Homo sapiens: one gene and its partner. The protein of the gene in region 2 interacts with the protein of the main gene of each other region in a pairwise test. Each region holds a gene or a part of one and is shown on either strand. Other genes may lie near its edges. The genes, in order: SORBS1 and MAP4K3.

What was found.
Region 1: the proteins of MAP4K3 (region 2) and SORBS1 interact in a two-hybrid assay, tested with the Homo sapiens proteins (one large-scale study listed by BioGRID and IntAct).

What each region holds. Positions count from the first base shown.
Region 1 is NC_000010.11:95,334,359-95,338,179, reverse strand, and holds part of SORBS1 (sorbin and SH3 domain-containing protein 1), read left to right. Parts: intron 1-885; coding exon 886-1,659; intron 1,660-3,821. UniProt on the Homo sapiens protein: Plays a role in tyrosine phosphorylation of CBL by linking CBL to the insulin receptor. Required for insulin-stimulated glucose transport. Involved in formation of actin stress fibers and focal adhesions.
Region 2 is NC_000002.12:39,322,114-39,325,934, reverse strand, and holds part of MAP4K3 (mitogen-activated protein kinase kinase kinase kinase 3), read left to right. Parts: coding exon 1-36; intron 37-123; coding exon 124-205; intron 206-306; coding exon 307-417; intron 418-3,821. UniProt on the Homo sapiens protein: Serine/threonine kinase that plays a role in the response to environmental stress. Appears to act upstream of the JUN N-terminal pathway.

The DNA of each region.
Region 1 (3,821 bases), on a different chromosome or scaffold from region 2:
TGAGTTCAGGGTGACACGGTGGGGGTGACATCCCTGTGAAAGAGCCTGGACAAACCACCATGTATGTTGTAAGGAGGTTGGCAGAGGAACAAGAGTAGGACCTGGGGGCCCAGGTTGACCCTGAGATGGTGCCTCTTGTCTGGTCCTCTAATTGTTTCCTCCTCTGCCACCTGCTCATCACTGACCCCAGTAGAGGGTTCTTGGCAGAAAGCATTAAACGGGCTGACCCAGGGCTTCCTGGACAGTGATAGCCGCATCCTGTTGTCTTATAGGACAGAGTGTGTGACTGGAGTGGGACATTCTTCTTTGTAAGGATGCAGGGAACTCAACTACATTTTTCACTTGACTAGCCAAGAGTGATTGTAAAACAAAACTAGTACACTACTCATACTCCTCTCTGGAAGACTCTGCTGAGCTCCCAGAGAAAATAAAACCCCAGGGAAGGGCCATGGCAGTGTGGGGCCACCTTTCCCCGTATGGTTCCGGGTCAGGGATCTGGATGCACAGGGGCTGGGTTGGCTGGGATGGGGAGCTTCCAATGTGTCCCTTTGAAAATCTGATTCTGCAAAGCAGGGCGGCCTCATCCGTCACTACTCTGACGGGAACCTCTCCCCATCTCCACACCTCTCACTGCTTCCTCCACCCCCTGCCTGCACACATCAGGATCACGCTCGCACATGCTCAAACGCACACTCACCCATCCTGGTTTCTCCCCAGATGTAACCTGAGGATTTCCTTTTTGGACACCAGAGTGTCCTTGCTCATCCTCTCCATTTCATTCCTCTTTATATACCCCTTGTGATTATTTTCCTTCTTTTTCCTTTATGCTGACACTTGTACCTTTTGCTTCTTTCTTTTGTTTTCCTCTCTTTTCTTCTTTTTAAGTTTTCCAGTCACAGCAAGCTCATCACGCCAGCCCCCTCATCTCTGCCCCACTCCCGCCGAGCCCTGTCCCCCGAGATGCACGCTGTCACCTCTGAGTGGATCTCACTGACTGTGGGGGTCCCAGGCAGGCGTTCTCTGGCCCTGACCCCACCCTTGCCTCCTCTGCCAGAGGCTTCTATCTATAACACTGACCACCTCGCCTTGTCACCAAGGGCCAGTCCCTCCCTGTCTCTCAGCCTCCCCCATTTGAGTTGGTCAGATCGTCCCACCCCACGATCAGTAGCTTCTCCACTGGCCCTACCTTCCCCACACAAAACCTACTCCCTAGCACCTACTTCCCAGGCCTCCCTTCACATGAATGGAGACGGTGGTGTCCACACGCCATCTTCAGGCATCCACCAAGATAGCTTCTTGCAGCTGCCGCTGGGGAGCTCTGATAGTGTCATCTCCCAGCTTAGTGATGCCTTTAGCAGCCAGAGCAAGAGGCAGCCATGGCGCGAAGAGAGTGGACAATATGAGAGGAAAGCAGAGAGGGGGGCAGGCGAAAGAGGCCCTGGTGGACCCAAGATCTCTAAGAAGAGCTGCTTGAAGCCTTCAGACGTGGTCAGGTGCCTGAGTACTGAACAGAGACTCTCAGATCTCAACACCCCTGAGGAGAGCCGGCCCGGCAAGCCCCTGGGTAGCGCTTTTCCAGGAAGTGAGGCTGAGCAGACAGAGCGGCATAGAGGTGGCGAGCAGGCGGGGAGGAAAGCTGCTCGGAGAGGTGGGAGCCAGGTAGGACTGCAGCATGCCGCGTGTGCACTTGGCGTCTCACTTGGCAGGGTGGGCTGCACGTCTCGCCCCTGGTCCATCTACGGAGGCCAAGTGAATGCTGGTGAGACCATTTGCTTGCCTCAGGAGCAAAGAGATGGCCCCAGAGGGAATGGGAGGACATGAATTCAGGTGCCAGGACTGGATACAGTTGGAGGGAAAGGACAGGCTATATCTGGCCACTTGAGGTCATTTGGAAGTTATCTCTACTTTGAATGCCTCCTGGCCTGCTGCAAGGGCCTCTGAGAAGGCAGACCTTCCTCACATCCCATGTATGCCTTAGAGATGACCCTCAGTTTGCTTTGACTAACACAGCTGAGAACACCAGGCTTTGGTGTGGTGTGGTTTGCTTTTATGTAAGATGCACTTTGTTTCCATAACCCATGGTGCTCTGCTAGTGCTCGGCTCTGTCAGGTCTTTGTCCTGTCTCGTGTTTGTGTGGGAGCGCGGGGCCTTTGTTTGCTATGAAACAAAGGTGTTTTGGTTCTGGAGAGGAGAATGCAGGTCTCCTGGGGCCCTGACTGACATGGGGTATCCTCGAATAGCCATGCCAGGTTTTGGGGTGAGTGTACCATCTTCTCTCTGGGTCAGCTACAAAGACCCAGAGAGCATTTGGACAAAGGTAGCCTTAGGGTGTTTTGAGACCTGAAAATTTTTTTGGAGAAATGAACTTAGCAACTAAACAAATCACAATTCTGATTTTGGCTATGCTGTTGACTACTGCGAAAGTCAAAGACTTTCGGCAACTTCTCAGAAGCAACCAGGTTTGAATGCCAGCTCCACCTCTTACAGTCTAGTGACTTGGGAGTTGCTTCCCCTGTCTGAGACTCAGTTTCCTCATCTGTAAAATGGAGATGATAGCACCTACCTCAAAGAGTGGTTGATTACAAGGGCTTATGATCCTGGGAACATGGTCAGCACTTTATAAACGGAAGCTATAGAGCCACCATCTTGGGTGATCTAGAATTGCTTCTAGAACTGAGAATATTTTTAGAACTTCCTTAGACCCAGATTGAGTTCCTGAAGATGTCTCCAAGCCATTTATTAAGTATCTAGTATGTCTGATGTCCACAGTAAATAGTGCTTAACCCTTAGGCTTGCAACCTCAGTTTCCCTTTGAGGCTGTAGTTATTCAGTCTATGAATAAGGCCTGCAGGTACCAGCCTCTGGGCAGAATACAAAGGTCATTTGTCTCTCCTCTTGAGAACCCTAAGTTCAAGGCTCCTCAAAACAAGGAGGAGCCTAGCAATATCACCAGGGCAATAATAGAGGCATGCTTGGGGGACACAGGAGCACAGAGGCTTGAGACACACTAGGCCAGACTTCCAGCTCCAGCCAAGCACATGTGGGCCCATGGGTGGGCCAGCACATCAGGAGTGGGGATCACTGAGGGTGAGCCGGCATGGGGCAGTTTATAAGAAATCAGGCTTAGCCTTTTGCTAGAAAGCCACTTAACCTCTCACATGCTAAGCAGGAGTGGAAGCAGTCCATCCCTTGTAGGGCAGTCATAAGGATTCAGTGAGGTAATTCATGGAAGTCGGTGCTTGGCATGTGCCAAGGCTCCATATGTGGGGTCACCCGCTGCTGTGGAGGGCTGTAGGAAAGCAGTAATACCTGGCAAAGGCTTTGCCTGGCCCTGGAACAGGTTGAGGAAGGAATAGAAGAGATGGTGAAGTGGCTAGTTGAAAAGAATTAAACGTTTCTGACACAGGAACAATTCTATAAACATTCTAAGTCAACCCAAGGCACCCGGGGACATCCTTATCGTCAGTGTTGAGTCATCATCCCGGCCCAATTCCAGGATCCTGTGTGTATAGGAAGTGCGCACGGTGCCGGATCTCCGAGTAAGGTTAGGGGTATACGCTTCCTGCTTCCTAAGGCAGGATAGGAGGGGAGTAGCTGGCAACACTGAAGATTATGTTGATTGGAAAGCCAGGCTTGTTGAAACTTGGTGTTCCTTTCTTGGTGGGCCTCCAGACCCCAAGTGTACCACTTCCTGTCCCCTCCCTTCCTCCTGCCCTCCTGGCACAAGCCCCTTCTCCATGGGTGTGCACAGGCTGTGGCCTGGGGCTCGCTCCCCCTTGAGAGCTGGCATTTGTGTGAAAAGGGCTGCTGCCCACACCTCC
Region 2 (3,821 bases):
TTTTCAGCCTCCTAAACTAAAGGATAAAATGAAATGGTAAGTATTTTTATGTTATTTACTTTTATGGTGAGATGAGCAAAAAATGAATTGGAATGTAAAAGTCTAATTTTCTAAATTTCTTAGGTCAAATAGTTTTCATCACTTTGTGAAAATGGCACTTACCAAAAATCCGAAAAAAAGACCTACTGCTGAAAAATTATTACAGGTATTATTTTTGCCCTGAAATATATATATATATTTCAAAAGATAAAATGTTATTCAATCAGATTTATAGTAAGTGTTCTGCATTGTATTTAATTTTTATAGCATCCTTTTGTAACACAACATTTGACACGGTCTTTGGCAATCGAGCTGTTGGATAAAGTAAATAATCCAGATCATTCCACTTACCATGATTTCGATGATGATGATCCTGAGGTAGGAATTGCTTTTACCAGCGGGCATATATAACATGTATATGTGTATGTATATATGTGTGTCTGTATGTACGTCTCAAAATCCATTTTTTTAATTTTGGGGCCTAGTTTAAATAAAAAAGCTCTTGAGGGAACAATTAATTCTTTGTCTTTGCCTTTCATGGAAAGTCAAATGCTAGGTTTTTCTTACTGACTACTTATAGGTGACTATAGTGTGAAAATGGCAAAGGCATATCATTTAATCCACTTGTTGAAATCACTGTAGTTATTTCAAAATAGCCATTTTTGGTGAAGTTGCCAAATAATCATTCACTGTAAAAGGGAAAGCAAATGGGAAGTGCCTAAACAAGACATTTGAATATTCAAAATTTCCCCTCAGTTTGCTTCTCAAAAAGAATCCTCAGTTTGGCCTGGTGGCTCATGTCTGTAATCCCATCACTTTGGGAGGCTGAAGCAAGAGGATTACTTGAGGCCAGGAGTTTGAAACCTGCCTGGTCAACATAGCAAGACCCCGTTTCTATCTTTAAAAAAAAATTCTTATATAATACTTCATAAATTATTAGAGGTTAGTAGGAAGTATAGGCTTGACTTTGCCAGTGACTAAAACTCAGCTATTCACTATGGAAATGTTTTAAAATGAGCCAGTATAGTTGTTAATAAAATAATTCTAATATGACAGAAGCATTGATATTAATGGAAGCTTCACTTCTGTTTGCATATGTAACATTCCTAGCACTGCTAATAGTTGTGGCAACCAAGATAAATTCAGTATATGTGACATGGCAGAATTCTGTTATTGGGTCTGTAACAGAAGTGGATAGGCTTTAACTCTACTGGCTTTATGGGAGGCCCTTAAAAATATTGTAAATTTCATTAATGACTGAAGGTGAAGTGTTTAGAAAGACGGCCACAGATTGTCTTAAGTCAGAGAGAACCTTTCTATCAATTCAGCATTGTCCCAGCTTGCCATCTTATGATAGATAAGCTATTTGTCCTTTTGTTTAAGGGTCTGGAAAAGAGTTTGGAGCTTAAAAATGTAAGGAATGTAAAGTATAATTAATCTTATAATTATACTCTGAAGAAGTTTTTTTTGTTTTGTTTTTGTTTTTTTTTGAGATGAGTCTTACTCTATTACCCAGGCTGGAGTGCAATGGCATGCTCTCAGCTCACTGCAGCCTCTGCCTCCTGGGTTCAAACGATTCTCCTGCCTCAGCCTCCTGAGTAGCTGGGATTACAGGAGCCCACCACCATGCCCAGCTAATTTTTGTATTTTTAGTAGAGATGGGGTTTTACCACATTGGCCAGGTTGGTCTCGAACTCCTGACCTTGTGATCTGCCTGCCTCGGCCTCCCAAATGCTGGGATTACAGGCATGAGCCACCGCACCTGGCCTGAAGAAGTTTTTTGGTGTTGATTTGCTTAATTTTATTTTTAAGAAAGTTAAGTTTTACAAACTCTTCTAGTCTTATTTAGTATACAGGCAGTCCTTGATGTGCATGGTAGTATGGGACTGTAAAAATGACTGCATAAGCTAAAATTCTGCAAAGTAATCTTAATAATCAGGAAAAATTATAATTGTTTCATGACTTTTAAAATTTTTTGTTAAAGCATAAACTCTGTTACTGTCAGTTGTAATTGTAGAAATGTGAAAAAATAGTAAAACTATTATTTACAGTGTATTATAAATATTAGAATCATCGAGAGTTAATGTGTTTCATTTCTTTGTTAATGAACTTTTCATGCACTTTTTTTACTTATCTAGTAGTCTGCTTATTGAGTAGTTTGCCTTTTCATCATGTGTCTGTGACACAGAGCAAGTATCTTTTCTATGCCTTGGCAAATTGTCATATTGCTTTCTAATTTTCTTTCTAATCATGATCATGATGTGCATCTGTTATTTACGTAGTAATTTGTGAACTGAAAGGCTACCAATAAAGTTTATACTTTATGCAATTTCAATTAATATACAGTGGTAACTGTTATTTGAACCATGATGTAGGGAACTAGTGTTATTTAACTAAATTATGGTAACTGAAATTGGTGCATAACAAAGCTGTAAAACAAGGACTGCCTATATCCTTTTCAGTGCACTAAATGCTACATGATTGTTTCTTACCTCACCCTATGTACTTGTCATGTCTTTTTAAAAATGTACTCAAAGAACAGAAATAATAAACCAAATAGAGAAGCAATCTGTGGAATGAAGATTCTTCTAAAACTTTCTCATATAGCAGGGAAAGAAACTCATCTTTCTTATCCAGACATTGTTTTGGTATTATAATTATAAATTGTTACAAATCTCTATGGTAAGTAGGTAAAATAAAGGAATTTAATTATTCCAGGGGTAGGATGAGGGGAAGCTGTTACATTCCCTCTCACAGTAGCTTAGAATAATGTTTTTCTTAAGAGAAATTCATAACTTTTTTATTTGCAAATGATTTGTAATTGTAATTGCTAAGTGCAGTGTTGTCACTCAAAATACGAATGTATCTAAGAATTTCAGCACTTACTGTGATACTAGAACTATTGTATGCATACTCTTAAAAATAAGGGTGGGCTCAGTGGCTTATGCCTGTAATCCCAGCACTCTGGAAGACCGAGGCAGGTGGATCACCTGAGGTCAGGAGTTTGGGACCAGCTTGGCTAACATGGTGAAACCCCGTCTCTACTAAAAATACAAAAATTAGCCGGGCATGGTGGCTCATGCGTGTAATCCCAGCTATTCAGGGGGCTGTGGCAAGAGAATTGCTTGAACCTGGGAGGCAGAGGTTATAGTGAGCCAAGATCATGCGACTGCACTCCAGCCTGGGCAACAGAGCGAGACTCCATCTCAAAAAAAAAAAACAAAAAATAGAAAAAGAAAAATATATATATATGTGTATTTATCTATATATACATATATACACACACACACACACACACACACATATACCACATCTAAGTCTAGTTTAAGTTTTTTATAGGTTATGCACTGTGGAAGAAAGTTTGACTTTTTAATGTTGAGTTCCCCTGTAGTTTCTATTTTAGAAGTAATTACACACTGGTGTAATTCTAATTCTGATTTTTATTCAGTTTTCGTCTCCTATATGTAAGCCCACTTACTATGTACAGCATTATAAGATTTAACAATTTTATTAATCTGTTATGCTAATAAATTAATAATTTATTGTGCTGTTTAAGCCGGGAAGGTAAAACTGTTCTCAGAAATAATCATGAGTTTCATCCATGTTCATTAATAACAGTCTGTATGAGTAACCTGCATGTTACCTGTTTTTGTTTGGTTTTGCTACTGTATATTAGATCAAAAGTCTAGGGTTTTTCCTAGCTCTATGGCTAGCTAGCTGAATGCCCTGCCACTTAATTTTAAGTCTCAGTATCCTCATCTATGAAATTGAAGGGGTGGGTT